Regions from separate parts of the Homo sapiens genome. Here region 2 is linked to region 1. The links come from fine-mapping of genetic effects on gene expression. A gene starts in region 1. The other region holds a variant in brackets. All regions are shown on one strand. Distances are from middle to middle. Region 1 holds the start of FASTKD1 (FAST kinase domains 1). Region 2 overlaps FASTKD1 (FAST kinase domains 1).

What was found. PIP is the estimated chance that this variant, and not a neighbour inherited with it, causes the effect.
Region 2: its variant is the best candidate, but not a certain one, in a credible set for the expression of FASTKD1 in whole blood (TOPMed, PIP 0.63).

The regions. Positions count from the first base shown.
Region 1 is chr2:169,572,489-169,574,988 of GRCh38, reverse strand. It overlaps FASTKD1 (FAST kinase domains 1), which reads left to right and starts at 1,124. Exons shown (of 15, transcript NM_024622.6): 1 at 1,124-1,320. RefSeq lists enhancers at 913-1,012, 915-1,517, 1,373-1,542.
Region 2 is chr2:169,530,004-169,533,043 of GRCh38, reverse strand. FASTKD1 (FAST kinase domains 1) reads left to right here. Exons shown (of 15, transcript NM_024622.6): 13 at 1,554-1,692; 14 at 2,343-2,457. Among named protein-coding and RNA genes, the nearest start is that of KLHL41, 22 kb to the right of the region's middle. The variant G/C (reference allele first, on the strand shown) is at 1,780.

The sequences.
Region 1 (2,500 bases):
GCGGTTTTATGGAATAGAAAAGGGGGAAAGGTGGGGAAAAGATTGAGAAATCGGAAAGTTGCTGTGTCTGTGTAGAAAGAAGTAGACATGGGAGACTTTTCATTTTGTTCTGTACTAAGAAAAATTCTTATCCTGTTGATCTATGACCTTACCCCCAACCCTGTGCTCTCTGAAACATGTGCTGTGTCCACTCAGGGTTAAATGGATTAAGGGCGGTGCAAGATGTGCTTTGTTAAACAGATGGTTGAAGGCAGCATGCTCCTTAAGAGTCATCACCACTCCCTAATCTCAAGTACTCAGGGACACAAACACTGCAGAAGGCCGCAGGGTCCTCTGCCTAGGAAAACCAGAGACCTTTGTTCACTTGTTTATCTGCTGACCTTCCCTCCACTATTGTCCTACGACCCTGCCAAATCCCCCTCTGCGAGAAACACCCAAGAATGATCAATAAAAAAAATAAATAAATAAAATAAAAAAAAGAAAGTTGCACAGCATATTCCAACAAATATCAGTTTGGTACCTTTAGAGCCTTACTTTGTTGTAGTGATTATCAGCTGAAAATTATGTCTGTTGTAACTTTGGTAAGCATTCCACTTTGGTTATTTATTAGTGGTATTTTTTTTTTAAGTGTCAAGTGTCAAATCTTGGGACTATTAAAATACCATGGTAAGTAAAAAAAAAATATGGTCTGAGAACTGGTACCTATCCACGACATAAGTGCAGAAACTGAGAGTATGAGTTTGCATACTTTCAAAGTTACTCGACAGAGTTATTTCGTATATGCTAAAAAATAATAAGAAAAATCTGTACGTGTCTTTTCCATGTTTACATTTTTAAATTTCATTTTCCTAAGTATATTTTTGTGTATATTATAAAAGTAGTAGACTTCCAAGGACTAGGAGAACAACCTTAGATAGTAGAGAATCACCTAAACGACCTATATCTTCTTCAACAGCTTAAGCTGTGTACTGCGCTAGAGCCTCCCTCAATGAGGAACTACAATGCCCAGAATTCCCCCAAAATGCGTGAGCGACGTCCATTTCACCCACCTCGCCGCGACCCACCCTGGGATATGTAGTGCGTGACTTCCGCAGTGCACGCTGCGCCTGCCGGGCATTTTTTCCTGGTTTGGGGGCAAGGTCTCATGGGAAAGGTCATGTCTCTCGAAGAAAGGTTATAAACCCTGAGATATGAGGGTTGGGCGAGACATCCGAGCCTGTTTCGTTCCGTGTTGGGACCAGGAATAACCCTGACTTCTGAGCTTTCATAACCCCAGGATCCTCCAGAAAATTTGCGGCGCGCTGAGGGAAAACCTTGCTGGCAAGTCGGGACTGTGTGGCAGCGGCTATTTTTCTTTTCCCACCCAGCACGTTTTCGGGCTGGGGACATAGGGTTCAGTTGAGATACGGAGGCTTCCTTCGGGATATTGGGTTCTCTGAAGTGCGGATGGACTAGGGCAGGGCTGAGACCCCATTCATTCACTCATTTGTTTAGCTCTCCTTTATGCCCGGCGCAGAAGATACCCCTTAGGGTCCCAAGGCCCTTCCTGTAGTTAAGTTCCTTCCTTAAGGTCATTCAGCTGGGGCAAAGCTGGGGACTCGACACCTTTCTATGCTAACCATTGAGCTGCCTCCACTTTGAGCAGCTCAGTGGATGAATATAGTATCTTGAGGATACCTTTGATTTGTGCAGGGTTTTCTTGTGCAGGTTTGTGACCCAGGTCAGCTTAGGTCAGGATGCTGTACTGCTTGCCACAAAATAGCCTGTACTGTCGCGTCGTTTTTTCTTGTGAACAGACTGTTTGGCATAGCCGTAGAGAGGGGTCTGAGACATGAATTTAGTGATACAGCGTTGATTTGTTTGTGTAATGAAGCTGTTCAAGTGGAAAGAACTGAGTTGTAGTCCCTGCTTCACTAGTACTAGAAGGATTTTTTAAACCTTTTTGAACCTATTTTGCCTTATCTGTAAAATGGAAATAATATCAACCTGGAAGGTTAGCTGAGAGAATTTAATGAGATAATGTGTTTCAAACGTTCTTTGTAAATGGTAACATGTTGCAGAAATATTAGATTATATGACTTTAGTCCCTGCTTTTCTAACCATTACTTCTCAATTATAAATGTAAACATTTATAGCATATTTTTAAAACAAATTATTCTTTTTTCATAATTATCTTTAGTTCTTTTATTGTTTCAGCATGACTTGAAACATTACTTAATTTCTTAGTATTTCTTGATTGGTGCTTTAATTGTGTCGTTCATTGGTTAAAACCTATCCAAGGCCAGTAATGATTAAATTATATGACTTCTTTTATTTATTTATTTTCTAAAGAAAGGAATTATTTGAGCTCTTTAAGGGCACAAGAAAAAGGGGCAAGAAATTATCCTGAAAGCAAATAAACCTGAGACCATACTTCTGAAAAATTAAAAAAAAAAAGTATATATATATGTATGTATAAATATATATGGCTCTGAATTAATGCCTACACTTTTTAGAAACT
Region 2 (3,040 bases), 42 kb after region 1:
TGTCACATAAGTAGAGAGATATGGGAAATTTTAGATAAAATTGAACATTTATGGGAATTATGGGAAATGTAACATAAGTAGGGAGATATGGGAAATTTTAGATAAAATTTAACATTTTATCGAAATGTTAGATTTGGCCTACTATAATGAACTCAATGGTGAAGGATTGAAGGCAGTGGAACCTATTCCTCATACGTCTCATGCACTGCACCCCTATACCTTTGCTTTTCCTGTTTTAAGTGTCTTTTATGTTTATTTTATAGTTTGTCCAAATTGGGATCTTAACATTCCACTTGGTTGGTTTGCAGTTTTTGGTTCAACTTTTCCTTTCCTACTTCTTTTTTTAACTTAAAATTTGAGAATAAGTTTTTTTTTTCCACATTTCGAACTTTTCTAATTGCAGCCCTGTGATAACATTTAAAATGTCATCTGATAGTTTTTAATGTTTTTACTGTAAACCTGGGTTTGCTGTAAACCATTAGTGATATCTAGAGATTTGATTAGATTTTAGGTTTTTTTTTTAGGTTTTTCTTTTTGGCCAAAAACTTCATAAGTGGCTTGTACTTCTTTCTGCATCCTCTCAGGAGGCACACAAGGCTGGTTGTCTTTTTCTTTTTCTTTCTTTCCTTTTTTTTTTTTTTGTCTGGCTCTGCTGCCTAGGCTGAGGTGCAGTGGCACAAGCATGGCTTACTGCAGCCTTGACCTCCTAGGTTCAAGGGATCCGCCCACCTCAGCCTCCTCAGCCGGAGTAGCTACCACTACACCTGGCTTATTTTTTAAGTTTTTTGTAGAGATTGGGTTTTGCCATGTTGCCCAGGCTGGTCTGGAACTCCTGAGCTCAAGCAATCTGCCTGCCTCGGCCTCCCAAAATGCTGGGATTACAGGTGTGAGCCACTGTGCCTGGCCTGGTTGTCTTTTATACATTAAGACTCATCAGTGGGTTCGTATGTTGTCAGCTGATTCATTCAACAGAAAGTTCCCCTGTCAGCTTTTCACCTGCTGATTTTAGCAGTTATTAATGATCACTCATTGCCTAAATCCATCATTCAGAGGGGTGGTAAAGTAGCGATATTCTACATCTATCATGCCTTCTACATTTATTAGCTGGAATTTGTCTAAAAAGGACTTTCCCATATCAACTGTTTAGTTACTCTTATGTACAATTCATGTAGAAAAGACAGGATAAATGCTTGTATCTTTTTCTTTATTAATTTTCAGATGAGTTGGTTTAGCTTTCTCCAAATGTAATCAAGAGCCTTAAAGAGATTGAAACTCTTTAATGTGATTTGGCCTAGCCCAGCGCTAAATGTAGCCTAGTACTTAATATTGTTTTGTAATTCTTCTGGTTGATTTTTTTATTGATTGATTTCCAAAGAGAGGTGCCATTGGACCAGATCTTATAAAAATAACTTGGATAATCTGAGAGGTTCGTCATTCTTTTGTGAGTGTGTGTGTGTACAAATATTATATGCATATATATTTCAAATATATCTTAAACTTTTATCTGTAAGACTTTACCTAATTCATACTACCAGTTTCTATGCTTCCTTAAGATTTTGAGTGTATCTTGGATAAAAGAAAAAAACCTCTTCCGTATGGAAGCCATAATATAGCATTGGGACAACTACCAGAAATGCCCTGGGAATCAAATATCGAAATAGTTGGATCAAGGCTGCCACCAGGGGCTGAAAGGTAATTTATTTCTTAGTTTTAGATTGTATTAATATCTAAATGTTAAATTTGGTGTACTATACTGAAGTCAGTGATCAAGGATTGAAG[G/C]TAGTGGAATCTGTTCCTCATATGTCATGCATTCCACCTTTGTAACTTTGCTTTTCCTCTCCTTTCTGCTTTAATGTTCTCCCTTCTTCTGTCCAAAGCCTAGCAATCTCCCTAACTAAAGTGCTAAAAGAATTGTCCTCCACTGGAAGTAAAATAGTATCTTCTTTTGCGCTCCCATACCTCTCTACTTTTCTCATAGCACTTAGCCACTTCCTACACTGCATTACAGTAACTTACTATACATCATGTGTTCTCTGTTAGACTATAAGCTGTGTTGCTTCATATTTGTACCCCTCACAGTGGTTTACATGTAGTAGGCATGTGTAAATATATATTGGACCAAAAAAATGGATGAAAGCAGACAAATATTTACAATAATTTTGTGTAACTAAATAGGTTTGTCATCAATTACTAATTTCTTAGTAGAAACATAACTTGATATACTCATTTATATTCATTGGCTTTTGTTAGTTTATAAAGATGCAATCTTGTTTCTGAAAAGCTTGTAATTATTCAGTTTCTTATTCTGATTTTAGGAGTAAATATTTTTTTATTTTATGTAGGATTGCTTTGGAATTTTTGGATTCAAAAGCACTTTGTAGAAATATCCCTCACATGAAAGGAAAATCTGCTATGAAAAAACGACATTTGGAAATTCTGGGGTATCGTGTAATTCAGGTATGAAATACTCATGTAATTCAGCCTCTAAAAAGCCCAGAGACACTAGCTGTACATGTGCTTCCTTTTAATGTGAAAGTTCCAGAATTACCTTTTTAAATATATTTTTTAAAATGTATCACTCAAACAGGCCAGATACAATAGCTCATGCCTGTAGCTACTTGGGTGGCTGAGGTGGGAGGATTGCTTGATCCTAGGAGATTGAGGCTGCAGTGAGCCGTGATCATCCCACTGCACTCCAGCCTGGGTGACAGAGCAAGACCCTGTCTCATAAAAATAAATAAATAAAAGTTGTCATTTATTTTATTGTCTTTAGAATATCCATATCTTATGATTTCTATATCTTACAAAGGAGAGAGGCACTGTAGAGATGGATAGAGTTATCAGAGGAAACAACTAGGTATGAATATAGAAGACTATGTAGGAAAAAATGTCCATCATTGGTATTGTAGGAAAAGGAGGATGAAAGGAGCAGAAAAAAGTATTCTAGGCAATGTCAGAAGGACCCACTTGGCTTCCAGTAGAGGTTCACAGGCTATCCTTATGTAAACTAATTTCATAGGATTCCTACAGCTTTGATCAG